Linked DNA regions of Homo sapiens. The protein of the gene in region 1 purifies or fractionates together with the protein of each later gene. This does not show direct contact. Each region holds a gene or a part of one and is shown in the gene's direction. Other genes may lie near its edges.

The links. Proteins that work in one complex are often made in the same cells at the same time.
Region 2: the proteins of PTPRO (region 1) and SDF2 purify together in Homo sapiens (affinity purification with mass spectrometry, with the first as the bait; 2 studies listed by BioGRID). This does not show direct contact.
Region 3: the proteins of PTPRO (region 1) and NGLY1 purify together in Homo sapiens (affinity purification with mass spectrometry, with the first as the bait; 2 studies listed by BioGRID). This does not show direct contact.
Region 4: the proteins of PTPRO (region 1) and SIL1 purify together in Homo sapiens (affinity purification with mass spectrometry, with the first as the bait; 2 studies listed by BioGRID). This does not show direct contact.

What each region holds. Positions count from the first base shown.
Region 1 is NC_000012.12:15,500,508-15,504,007, forward strand, and holds part of PTPRO (receptor-type tyrosine-protein phosphatase O isoform a precursor), read left to right. Parts: intron 1-1,112; coding exon 1,113-1,556; intron 1,557-3,400; coding exon 3,401-3,500.
Region 2 is NC_000017.11:28,651,907-28,655,406, reverse strand, and holds part of SDF2 (stromal cell-derived factor 2 precursor), read left to right. Parts: coding exon 1-120; intron 121-3,500.
Region 3 is NC_000003.12:25,759,444-25,762,943, reverse strand, and holds part of NGLY1 (peptide-N(4)-(N-acetyl-beta-glucosaminyl)asparagine amidase), read left to right. Parts: intron 1-3,500. UniProt on the Homo sapiens protein: Specifically deglycosylates the denatured form of N-linked glycoproteins in the cytoplasm and assists their proteasome-mediated degradation. Cleaves the beta-aspartyl-glucosamine (GlcNAc) of the glycan and the amide side chain of Asn, converting Asn to Asp.
Region 4 is NC_000005.10:138,950,369-138,953,868, reverse strand, and holds part of SIL1 (nucleotide exchange factor SIL1 precursor), read left to right. Parts: exon of another isoform or gene 1-1,984; coding exon 1,985-2,081; intron 2,082-2,533; coding exon 2,534-2,698; intron 2,699-3,500.

The sequences.
Region 1 (3,500 bases):
CTCAAAAATTGGTACTCATAATACACGAATGGCACTAACACAAGGCAGAATGAGATAAATATTATAACAGAGGTACAAAGTTATTTAACAACACAAAGGAAGGAGAGATAAATTTTTATTAGAAGCTCATGGGGCCTAGCACGGTGGCTCATGCCTGTAATCCCAGCACTTTGGGAGGCCGAGGCAGGTGGATCACCTGAGGTCAGGAGTTTGAGACCAGCCTAGCCAACGTGGTGAAACCCCATCTCTACTAAGAATACAAATATTAGCTGGGCATGGTGGCTGGTGCCTGTAATCCCAGCTACTCGGGAGACTGAGGCAGGAGAACTGCTTGAACCCAGGAGGCGGAGGTTGCAGTGAGCCGAGACCACGTCATTGCACTCTAGCCTGGGCAACAGAGAGAGATACTGTCTCAAAATAAAAATTAACAAAAAAGTTCATGGAAGAGGTGATAATGGAACTGCTATTTGAAGAACAAGTAGAAACTGTTACAGGCAGAGACTACGCAGTGCGTCTTCATAATTTTCTCCCTGTAAGTAAAGTGTGCTTCCATAATTTGTAAACTCATTTTGAGTTTATATGTTTCATTTTAGGGAGGTGAGGAGTGAAGCTATATTTCTAACATGTGTGTTAACATCTCTAAAGGCAACACATGTATGCAACTCTTGTAGGTGCAACTATGTCACATGGAGTATTTTCATCTTCATAGCTATAAGTACACTATACTTGTTTTGTTTTGGTTTTTTTGTAATAAAAATCCAGGAACAGAGATACATTTTTTTGTAAGTGGAATTACGATAAACTGAAAAATATTTATATACTCTGCTTTTAGAAGTGGTTGAATTACCACTTCAACAAGCATAATATTGTAAGTTAATATATTTGAAGTGTGACTAGTGGTATGTTGATAGGTATACATCATCCACAAAATGTTAGAAGTATGTATATGGAAAAAAACACAGCTTATCTTGATGTAAATTTGTCTGTGTATCAGAAGTAAAATTAAATTCCACTTTTAAAAATCTGCTTGTGTACCTGACTCATTAAGAGATTAAGTATTCACTCTAATTGAATTAAAAAATACTTGAAAATGAAAATTCTCTCTCTTACAGCCCCTTATCCACCTCAAAATATTTCCGTTCGTATCGTAAACTTGAACAAAAACAACTGGGAAGAACAGAGTGGCAATTTCCCAGAAGAATCCTTCATGAGATCACAAGATACAATAGGAAAAGAAAAACTCTTCCATTTTACAGAAGAAACCCCTGAAATTCCCTCGGGCAACATTTCTTCCGGTTGGCCTGATTTTAATAGCAGTGACTATGAAACTACGTCTCAGCCATATTGGTGGGACAGTGCATCTGCAGCTCCTGAAAGTGAAGATGAATTTGTCAGCGTACTTCCCATGGAATACGAAAATAACAGTACACTCAGTGAGACAGAGAAGTCAACATCAGGCTCTTTCTCCTTTTTCCCTGTGCAAATGATATTGACCTGGTTACCACCCAAACCACCCACTGCTTTTGATGGGTTCCATATCCATATTGAACGAGAAGGTAAAGCAGTAGGAAATCAGAGGAAATAAGAACTGATACAAAGGAAGGGGAATTGAAATGTTTTTAAATTTGAGTTTAGAAAGACTGATCATAGACAGTTATTAGTCAAAGAATAATGGTAATGAAAGGGGAGAATTTAATTGAGTATCCAATGCAGACTGAGAGCAGAAAACCCAAATGAATAGACTGGATAAGAATCAGAAGGTTTGGGTGATTCACAAGTTGTAAGTACTGCCAACTGTATACATTTGACTGCCCACTATTTCTCATGTCTCAGAACAATGAGGAAAACATCATATTTGGAAATATTTTGAATTAAAGATCTAACTATCCCAGAATGTTACAACATAACCTAGAGAAATTTTCTGTTTTCTCATATGCAAATTTTTAAACATGGCAGCAAAGTAATACTTATGAAAACATTACTACTTCCTCAAGAATATGAGGCATGTGTCCTGCTAACCAGCCGCTCTTGTTCCCTTTAGGGTGCGCCCCTCTAGAAAAAGCACCACAGTTTTCCAAAGAGAAGCTGATAGTAAAATGGAAAATACACAGCTGCTGACATTTCCATATAGCTACTATATTATATTTTGCATTGACTAACTCAGCATCTGAGGTTCATTCTTTATATTTTAGCCACTAACTTAGGAAAGTAGAGCCATGACTTTCAACAAGTTTGGGTCATGATACCTATCTCAATTGTTGTTTGGTAGATTTTTATGGTTATTTGTTGTTTGTTTAGTTTTTACAGTAATATACTTCATTTTCCATTTTCTGATCTAGTAGTTTGAGTGGCAGAGGTTATAATTTGTAAAAATTTGAAGTTACAGTGATAGCCTTATTTTTAGGGTGAGAGTTTAAGGCCCATGTAGTCTCATATACTGACATATTGTTTACTCCTATTTTACTTAATAGCATGAGATACAAAATCTGTGGATTCTTCTATACAAGATGATACAGCATTCAACCATACCCAAATATTACATAAAATGAAAATTCTTAATTATTTGAGTCAAAAGTCATTTTCCTGGAATTTCCTATTTTTTTTAAAGTTTCCTTAATCTATCATTTATTTTTCTGTTCCTAAATATGTTCCTACGGCAAATAGGATCTTGTCATTACAAAAATTTTTTACTGCCTCTTCTCATGAAGGTTCTATTATGCATTTATCTGACTCAGTGTCTTCTTTTGAAGGCTGTTGTAGTCACCAACTGATGATAATGACTTCAAATGAAGTAATAAGCAGCAGAGGATGGATGGACTGTGAAGCAATGTGAAATAATTCTTTCTTTAAGAAGATCTGAAAGCAAATGGATAAAGGAAAAATATTACCATGATTATTATTTTTTTAATTTTACTTTAAGTTCAGGGGTACATCAGAAAATATACCTTAAAAATTAGATGTATTTTAAATAAATGTTAAAGCACTTCTGGATGGTTAATACTACCACAAAGAACTTACAAGATATTTGATCCTGGTTATTTTTTAGCCCTTACCTCGTGATGAGAAAGCCAACAATTGTTAACTTTTCCTGATTATCTACTTCTATTTTGTACACATAATTTTGTTGGGTAGGAGTACATAAAGATACACAGTGTAGACCCATCCCTAGTTTTATTGATTTGAATGCCGTATTTGAGTTTTGTTATTTGGAAGACTGTAAAAATACTGAACTCTTATTTATTATTCTTTAATGGTACCTTTAGTTTAGAGGTGTAATTGAACTTGACAAAAGGAGGGAACATTTAAAACACCTAATTTTTTTTCATTAATCGACTTGTCTATACCCAGGGCCTTTCCAGGTGTCTATTCATGTATCTTCTCTTTTTTATATATGATTTAGAGAACTTTACTGAATATTTGATGGTGGATGAAGAAGCACATGAATTTGTTGCAGAACTGAAGGAACCTGGGAAATATAAGTTATCTGTGACAACCTTTAG
Region 2 (3,500 bases), on another chromosome or scaffold:
GCCACAGTGTGTGAGAGGGGAACCCCCATCAAGTGTGGCCAGCCCATCCGGCTGACACATGTCAACACTGGCCGAAACCTCCATAGTCACCACTTCACTTCACCTCTTTCTGGAAACCAGGTGAGGTGGCTTTCGATGGATTGTTGCTGCTCTGCATTACTCAGTGGGTGCTTGTTTGATCTCTTGGTTCTTAAATGTTTCTTTTCTAGGTGTAGATGTTCTCTTTTGTGCAGACCTGGGGAAATGGCTCTATTTTTGTGTGGGTTTTTGTTGTTTTTGAGACGCAGTCTCACTCTGTCACCCAGGCTGCAGTGCAGTGGCATGATCTTGGCTCACTGCAACCTCCGCCTCTGGGTTCAAGCAAGTCTCCTGCCTCAGTCTCCCAAGTAGCTGGGATTACAGGCGCATGCCACCATGCCTGGCTAATTTTTGTTTTTATTTTTATTTTTTTGAGATGGAGTCTCACTCTGTCACCCAGGCTGGAGTGCAATGGCATGGTCTCAGCTCATTGCAACCTCTGCCTCCTGCGTTCAAGCGGTTCTCCCACCTCAGCTGCCCGAGTGGCTGGGACTACAGGCGTGTGCCACCACACCTGGCTAATTTTTTTTTTTGTATTTTTAGTAGAGATGGGGTTTCACTGTGTTGGCCAGGCTGGTCTCGAACTCCTGACCTTGTGATCTGCCCACTTCGGCCTCCCAAAGTGCTGGGATTACAAGTGCAAGTCACCGCGCCTGGCCTGATTTTTGTATTTTTAGTAGAGATGGGTTTTCACCATATTGGTCAGGCTGGTCTCGAACTCCTGACCTCAGGTGATCCACCCGCCTCTGCCTCCTGGAAGTGTTGGGATTATAGGCATGAGCCACTGCACCCAGCCGGCTTTGTTTTATAAGTGTGAAGAAAATTGTTTCTGGTCAAAGTGGAGACAACAACTAAACCAAATCAAGAAATGGGAAGGACAGACAGACTGGGTATACATCAGCATATCATAAGTTCTGATATTCTGCAATAAAGAAACCCAATGTTTTCCAACTTGCAGTGTTTTTTTTTTTTTTAATGATGCTAACTAGTTACATTAGGAAAATAGATTTGCTTTTGTGTCACTGTTTTTTGTTTTTAAACAGGGTCTTGCTCTGTCACCCAGGTTGTAGTGTGATCTTGCTCACTGCAGCCTCAGCCTCCTGGGCTCAAGCAATTCTCCCACCTCAGCCCTCACTACAGGCTCACGCCACCATGCCTGGCTAATTTTTGTATTTTTTTTGGTAGATACGGGGTTTTGCCATGTTGCCTAGGCTGGTCTCAAACTCCTGAGCTCAAGCTATCTGCCTGCCTCAGCCTCCCAAAGTGCTGGGATTACAAGCATAAGCCAGTACACCCAGCCTTGTGCCACTGTTTTAAGCCTTGAGTTGTCAGGGGATGTGGACACCTTAATGACTCCTTCCCTGTCCCCAGCCCCTGTATGCAGTTTTCCCTATTAATATCTTACCTTCGAAGGGTAAATTTGCTATATTTAATGAAGCAATATTGATACAGTTTTATTAACTAAAGACCATAGTTTTTTTCTGATTCCCTTGTTTTGTTTTGTTTTGTTTTGTTTTTTGAGACAGAGTCTCGCTCTGTCCCAGGCTGGAGTGCTATGGCGCGATCTCAGCTCACTGCAACCTCCGCCTCCCAGGTTCAAGCTATTCTCTTGCCACAGCCTCCTGAGTAGCTGGGATTACAGGTGCCTGCCACCACGCCCGGCTGATTTTTGTATTTTCAGTAGAGACGGGGTTTCACCATGTTGTCCAGGTTGGTCTCGAGCTCCTGACCTTGTGATCCACCCACCTTGGCCTCCCAAACTGCTGGGATTACAGGCGTGAGGCCTCCGTGCCCGGTCCCTTAGTTTTTACCTAATGTTCTTTTTCCATTCCAAAATACCACATTACATATACTTGCCATGTCTCATTAGGCTGTTCTTGGCTGTGACAGTTTTTCAGGCTTCCCTAGTTTTTGATGACCTTGACAGCTTTGAGGAGTGCTGGTCAGGTGTATTGTAGATTGCCCCTCTGTTGGAATTTGTTTTTCTTGTGATTAGACCGGACTTATAAAGGGTTTGGGAGGAAGATCACAGAGGTAAAGTGCCATTTGTATCCCATCATATCAGGGGTACATACTATCTTTATGATTTATGACTGTTGATGTGGACCTTGATTACCTGGCTGAAGTAGTGTTTGTTCGTTAGGTTTCTCCTGTAAAGTTATTCTTTTCATTTTCCCCCTTTCCATGCACTTTTTGGAAGAAAGTCACTATGTGCATTTCACTCTTACAGACTGGAGAGTTATACTCTGTCTACATTAGGGTGGAATATCTACATATTTTATTTGGGATTTTTCCATATTGGGGATTTGTCTCTTTTCCCCAATTTATTTATTTATTCAGTTATTTACATTAGTATAAACTTATGGATAGTTTATACTTCGTTATAATCTAATGCTACTATATTTTGTTGCTCAAATTGTTCCAACTTTGGCCATTGGGAATTCTTTCAGCTGGCTTTGTGTCCATTGGCAGTATCCCATTGTGTTTTTGTGTATATGTGCCTGCACTTTAAAGCACTTCTTTCCTTTCTGGCACCAAAAGATGCTCCAGGCTCATCTTGTTTATTTCTTGCTCCAGTACTAGAATCAGCTGTTTCTCCAAGGAGCTCTGCTTCCTTTTATTGGAGAATGATATTAAAACCAAGTTCTAGGCCTTATGTAAGCTTGTTGCTACTGGAGTGTTTCTTTTAGGCCCTCTCACTTGACAGAATAAATAACTGTAAGCCAGGCGCAGTGGCTCACACCTATAATCCCGGCACTTTGTGAGGCAGAGGTGGGTGGATCACAAGGTCAGGAGTTCGAGACCAGCCTGGCTAACATGGTGAAACCCCGTATCTACTAAAGTACAAAAATTAGCTGGGCATGGTGGCGGGAGCCTGTGATCCCAGCTACTTGGGAGGCCGAGGTAGGAGAATCGTTTGAACCTGGGAGGCGGAGGTTGCAGTGAGCCGAGATTGCACCATTGCATTCCAGCCTGGGTGACAGGGCGAGACTCTGTCTCAAAAAAAAATTAAAAAAATAAAGAATTGTTACCTGTGTGTGCTTACTCGTGTATATATTACATATCTATAAATTTTTATTTGCATAGCCATCTGTATCTACATATATTAAGTTAAATGAGCTTTCTTTTTCTTTTTCTTTTTTTTTTAAGATGGGTTCTTGCTGTGTTATTCAGGCTGGAGTGCAGTGGCTACTCACAGGTGTGATGATAGTGCACTAGAGCCTCGAACTCCTTGGCTCAAGCAGTCCTCTTGCGTCAGCCTTCCAAGTAGCTGGGGATACAGGCATGCCCCACTGTGCCTGGCTAGTGTTCTTATTGATGTCTTTAGCTGTAATCCATTACCACATAGATCGTCCTAGCCTCCTCCCTGTGCTAATTTGTAAATTCCCACTCCAACAGTAAGATACCTTGTTCCTACCATC
Region 3 (3,500 bases), on another chromosome or scaffold:
TCACTCTTGTTGCCCAGGCTAGAATGCAATGGCACGATCTTGGCTCACTGCAACCCCCACCTCCTGGGTTCAAGAGATTCTATAGCCTGCGCCTCCCGAGTAGCTGGGATTATAGGCACCTGCCACCACACTTGGCTAATTTTTTGTGTTTTTAGTAGAGACGGGGTTTCTCCATGTGTGCCAGGCTGGTCTCAAAACTCCTGACCTCAAGTGATCCACCTGCCTTGGCCTCCCAAAGTGCTGGATTACAGATGTGCACCACCACACCCAGCCCTTTTTTTAAGTTCTTAATCTTACAATTCAGATATAGTTCCAGGTCTTTAAAATCCTGTCCGTCACCAGAAAGCCTCTAAACACTACACTAAAAACAGAATGTCATTCTGTTGGCAAAACACATTCTAGTGTAGAAGAAAATAAATTTTCTCAAAGGTGTATGCTATTAGTAGGCTAGTGTATATCAATTCTTACTACTCTAGTCCTTCACACAAAATATCTTCTGTGTTGAAGTTGAGAGAAATTAGAATGAATCTTGTTTTTCATAGACAACTCTTGGTTATTCGTGGATCACTGGAATATATGTATTTCTTTAAAGTATTTTGTTAATTATGCTTTCATCATTAGTTGCTATACTACAGAATTTGACAGTTTTCTTCTACCTTGCCCATTTTGAGTGGAGATACTGAGAATTAAAATGTACCAAAGTCAGGGAGCCAGAGAGATATTTTTTAAAGCATTTAACCTGTGTATAAACTAGATAAGTCCTAGTGAACTTATAACTTTTTTTTTTTTGGTTAAAACTATATCAAGTAAAATGTCGATGTATAAGTTAAGATGATAGTCACTGATGTTGACGTTTGCCAGTAAGCTTTTAAGATACAAAATACTGGAATATATTGATACTCAATAAATGATGATAGTGGTGGTGATTGTTAGAAAGTTAATCTTGCTACTTTTTCTGGACATTTTATGTTAATAGAATTATAGTATGTAATCTTTTGTTTCTAGCTCTTTGTGTAACATTTTTGAAGTTCTTCGTATTGCAGGATATATCAGTATTTTGTTCCTTTTTATTGTTGAATAATATTCCATTTTAAGGATATGCCACATATTGTTTCCATTCATCAGTTGATGGACATTTGGGTTGTTTCCCATGTTTGCCTATTATGAATAATGCTGCTGTGAACATTCACATACAAATTTTTGTGTAGACATATGTTTTTATTTCTCTTGAGTAGATTCCTAGGAGTGGAACCACTGGGTTGTATGGTAAGTTTATATTTATGTTTTTAAGAAATTACCAAGCTGTTTTTCAAAATTGTACCATTTTACTTTATCATCAGAAATATGTGAGGCTTCCCGTTTCTTAGTATCCTCACCAACCATTGTTACTGTCTTTTTTAGTATACCCATTTTAGTGGTTGTTAAGTAGTAGTTCATTTTGGTTTTAATTTGCATTTGCCTGATGACTTAATTGATTTTCAAACTTGCTGGTTGTACATGCTAAGTGTTTAGTGTTCCTAATGGAAGTAACTTTCTGATAATCCTTTATTTTTATACCCATTGCCTTCCAAAAGCAGATTCAAAACAGCAAGGACAATTTTTCAATGACATGGTACCTCAGAATGTTAGAAGCATTATGTTTCCAGCTTCACAACTTTATCTCGGTTGAAAATGTGATTCTGAAGTATAATATGCTTAAAATATACATTTAGTACTTTTTACTCAGCTAATCTAAATGTATGCTTTTATTTAGCACATGACTACTTTGAGTATGTATATGAAATTGTTAGGAACTTTTCATCAACTCTTTATCACTCTAGAAATTACTGCCAGTTTATATATGGGTATGTGTTTATTTAAACCAATTATCATAATTTGTGATTATTTCATTGAAATTATAAAAGTCATATATTATCAGATAATGATAAATAATAAAACGAACTAGTTAATTTTAAAACTAATTTTATCTCATAAACCAACAATAAGGCAACCTCTTAGTCTTAGTCTAGATCTGTGTGCGAGCTTTTTTTTTTTTTTTTTTTTTTTTTTTTTTTTTTTTTTTTTTTTTTTTTTTTTTTTTTTTGAGACAGAGTTTCACTCTTGTTGCCCAGGCTGGAGTGCAATGGCGTGATCTCGGCTCACCGCAACTTCTGCCTCCTGGGTTCAAGTGATTCTCCTGCCTCAGCCTCCGTAGTAGCTGGGATTACAGGCATGTGCCACCACGTCTGGCTAGTTTTAGTATTTTTAGTAGAGACGGGGTTTCTCCATGTTGGTCAGGCTGGTCTCGAACTCCCAACCTCAGGTGATCCGCCCACCTTGGCCTCCCAAAGTGCTGGGTTACAGGCGTGAGCCACCGTGCCCGGCCTGTGTGCTAGCTTTGTAAGAGAAGAAACCTATTTGAACATAAGATTTAAACATCCACTTTCTTTTTCATGAACCTACCACTCTTAAAAGTTAATACTTGCATGCCCTCTGATAGGGGATTACATTGTGTCCTTATATCAGCATACTTAGCGTATGTTAAAAATGAAGATGTGATCTGTTTTGACATGAATAACATTATTATATGGAAAAAAGGTAAACTGAGAATTCCAAAATTAAACAACATATGTTGTCTGTATATGTGTAATATTTTGATTTTTCTTATTAGAAACATACACACACACATACATATATATATATGTTCATTTTTTTAAAGGTTTGGAAGGCCATACACAAACATCTTAACCATAATGTACTCTGAGTGATGAAATTATGGGTGCTTTCATATTATTTATACTATTGAGTATTTTCTGAAATATTTTTTGAAGCAACATGTATTACCTTTATAAATAGAAAAGTTTTTCTTTAAATAAGTTTATTGAAGTCACAAGTTGATTAAAACATATTTAAAATAACAAAACTTTTATGTCTAAAAACAGGTTCTAAATTTTAAAGCCTCAAAATAAAGGGTTGCATAAAATTAAAGAGAGGGCAAGTAGGCTCAAGCCTTGATTTGTTGTGTGTGTGTGTGTGTGTGTGTGTGTTTTTTTAACTAAAGAAGTGAATTTGCTAATCTAACTTCCATTGATTAATTACCACGATTTGACAAAATTATACACATTGTACTTTTTTCTTATGAAGTCTTAAATATATCTCATATCAGAAATCAAAATAATTGGAAGTATGATTAGTGAAGGAAAAATCTCTTTGATCTAAAACCAACAGATTTCACATTTTAAACTTCCATTTGTACTCTAAGTAACTTTAGTCTCTCAATTAACTGCTGCCTTATGTAGCATTAGTACATGGTTACCCAGCTGCTGTAATCACCATGTAATCAGCAACTTTCTATTTTTATGACTTAGTTTTTTCAGAGTTGTGCCAATGAATATGTAAAGAAATAAGGCAAGAATATAAACTTTATTGTTTAAAATATTTTGAGTGCCATTAAAACTACAATGAATGAGGTAATTTCCAGATTGAAAAGAATTAAATTGAAAATAAAAATACTCCGGATG
Region 4 (3,500 bases), on another chromosome or scaffold:
AGATCTCTCAGCCCCCTTGGGGAAGCAGCATTTGATGTTTGTGTGAATCTCTCAGCGTGGTCGTCTTCTCTTCCTGGACCCTCCTGTCATGGGTGAGCGTTCCTTAGGCACATGATGGCAGAGACAGCCCTAATTAGCTCATGCTTTGATGAAACAGCTGCCTGTCTCAAGTCGTGGGGGGCAGGGGAGCAGCTCAGCTCCCAGGCCCCCCTGCGCCAGCGCCTGCCTGCCTATCTGGAGAGGAGCTGTCAGCCTCCCTTCCCCAGGGACTCTGGCCCATCTCCAGGCTGCTCTGCAGACACAGGGGTGGAGTTGCTGTGGGACGGGCTGGCACCCACCCTGTACTTCCTTTCTGGCTGAGAGGCTACAGAGTGACACGTGGTACAAAGGAGCTTTTCTCTTTAGAAAGCTGGCTCAGCGTGCTCGGTCTGCTCTGGACCTTGAAGCTTGTTCCTGGTCAGAATAGAAGTGGGGAGCTATCTTCATTCCATTCAGCCAGCTTTGGGGGCACGCCTGCTGTGTGTCGGGCCCTCTCCTGTACGGTGGCACAGTGTGTCTTTTCTGGGTTTAGGACCAGGAGCCAGCTCCTTCTGATTTGTCTTTGTTTCCTTATACCCTGGCTCACTCTCAAGGACACCGTGAGGGCCCCCTGGCCAGGAGGGTTGGGAGTTAGGAGGAACAGGTGCTTTTTGGGTCTCTGGGAGCTTGTGGTCATGCCAAGGGCAGGCAGCCAGAGGCATGCGGTGGCTTTGGTAGACTGCGGTGTCCTTTGTGGGCTAGTTGGATGGGTGTGACAGCCACCATCTGACTGCTGGCTTGGCCCCTTCACTTGTTGTTGGCCTCAGGCTTTTGTGTGCCTGTCCCCTCTTTTCTCTGGGGCCTCACATGTGGGCTGCTGAGAGGGGAGCCCTGACCTGCCCAAGGGCCTGACTATCTGGTCCCTGTGCTTGACACTTGCTCCTTAATTGATCCCTAATGCAATCTTGAAAAGCAAGGAGCCTGCAAAAGGGCATCCTGTGAGGGATCCCGGCCTTGTCCCCTGCATGGCACCCTGCCCTGATGGGGGTCCCCGCCAGGCCCCTCATCCCTTCATCTGGGAGGTCTGGGCCTGAAATGTTTTAATCACATCACTATTTCTCTAGCCCAGAATGGGGAGAGGAGTTCCAGAGGCAGCTCAGGGTTTTGAGTACTTTAGTGCAGTATGTTTATCTATTGATATGTTCATGGTTGTGTACACGTGTTGTTCATTCGTTCGTTCGTTCAGTCGTTCATTCATTCCCTACTGTCCAGGGACCTGTGACGTGGCAGGCTCTGTGCTGAGTGCTGAGAATACAGGGCAGAGAAGCTGACAGTAGCTGCTGTTATAGAGTGGGAGCCCAGTGGGAGGCATTGGGTTGTCCTGTTTTAGGATCTGCCTGGGTATTCAGAGGCTCCTGTCTCTTGCACTTTCTTCCTGCCTTCTCCCGCAAGCATTTTCTATGTGCAGTCTGAGTGCCGACCCAGGAGAGGAGAGGGATGGGGCCCTGGCCTTGGGGCACCAGACCCAGAGGGGAACAGACCCATTAGTAATTGCCCCAGTGTGTGATGTGCTTGGGTCATGGAGGAAGGAACATCCGGCACTGGCTTGGGAAGCGCCAAGAAAGGCTTCCTACGGGAGGGACGCTGAAGGAGCACCTTCGGCATCGAAATGTCTTTACAGTAGTAGAGGTTGTTCACCTTCCCAGCCCACTCCAGCCCCTTGGCTGCTGGGGAGTGGGGGCTGGCATGGGAGCACTCAGCCCTGTCACCTGTGCTGTGGGCCGCTGTTCCCACGTGGGTCTGTGCCAGATGGTCTTTGTTTCCCCAGCTGAGTTTGACTTGCCCCGTGTGGGAACCTCTGTTGTTCTTGTTTCTCCCCAGGGATGGCTGACATGGGCTCAGTTCCCTGACCATCCGATCCCTGGGCTGGGCAGGGTAGTCATGCTGTCCTGTGCTTCTTCCCCAGCAACCCCAAGGTCCAGGTGGAGGCCATCGAAGGGGGAGCCCTGCAGAAGCTGCTGGTCATCCTGGCCACGGAGCAGCCGCTCACTGCAAAGAAGAAGGTGTGTTTCCATGCCCTTCCTCCTGCCCAGCCTCCAGGACACGTGTGGGGCCTGAAAGGAAAGGGTTCCTGTCCAGGCTGTGCATGTTACCATGGGGGCCTGAGCATCATCTGCTGGGTGGCACAGGGGGAGAAGTTACACTCAACTAAAGCAGATGGCAGTGTGCCGAGGTGACTAGAGGCCTGGGGGCAGCTCCTGTGCTGTGGCCTTGGGCCCTACTCCTGGCCTCCCACCCTTGGCCTCTGTTTACCTCCCATTTACTCACTTGGTAATGTTGAAGGTGTCTGAGTCCCTCCTGGCCTCACAGTCCTGGGTTCTGGGGTATAGCTGTAACTGAGGTGGGGCCGGGAGGAATGGGGACTAATTTGGGGCACCTCTGCCTGCCTTCCCTGGGCCTCAGGGCAGGTCCAGCTCGCTTGGCCCCTCACCTACCCCTGGGTCTGTGCCCCCAGGTCCTGTTTGCACTGTGCTCCCTGCTGCGCCACTTCCCCTATGCCCAGCGGCAGTTCCTGAAGCTCGGGGGGCTGCAGGTCCTGAGGACCCTGGTGCAGGAGAAGGGCACGGAGGTGCTCGCCGTGCGCGTGGTCACACTGCTCTACGACCTGGTCACGGAGAAGGTGAGTGCCCAGGCCCACCCAGTCTCCTCTTGTTTGCTTTGTGTGTGCTTCTGGGTGGATGGACAGACAGATGGAAGAGACTGCGGACGTCACTTGTTTGCTTTGTGTGTGCTTCTGGATGGATGGACAGACAGACAGTTGGAAGAGATTGGGGACGTCAGGGAGTATGTCATGTGAGATGTGGTGGCTAAGCTGAAACCTGAGGGCTGATGAGGAGTGGGAGGTGGCCCTGCCAGCCATGGTCACGGCCAAGTGTGCAGGCAGAGGGCTCAGTATGAGGCAAGCCTTGGAGCAGCCGAGACCAGGCCCCGAGGGGACAAAAGGCTGAGGGGGTAGAACAGCCCAGAGCTCCTTCGAATGGCACTCACTCTTCGGATTCTAGAAACGTGGAGGTGCCTCCTCTGTGAGCTTTGGCTCTGGGCAGGGCCTCAGAGTGGCTGCCCTTGAGAGTCTCAGGGACCCAATTGCTTGCCACTTGGGAGGAGACTTGGTGCCCAGCCCTGTTTGCAAGCTTGAAGAAGCATCTTAATTAAGGAGGAGAGAGGAAAACCAGCCAGGCCTGGATTCTTAATTCAGCTACTGCAGAGAGCATTGGCAGGGCTTCCTCAGTTGCCTCTCTCGGGCCACACGCTCCCCAGAAGAGCCGCATGCCGACTAGTGGAGCAGGGCTGGGCAGCCGCTGGAACTGCTGCCGAATGGTGGAGGCTGGGCCCCTCACTCCCTCTGCACACGCCTCCCCCAGGCCTTCTCTCCCAGGCAGTGTCGGGATGGCTGTGGCCACCTCTGTCCATCACTGTCTCTC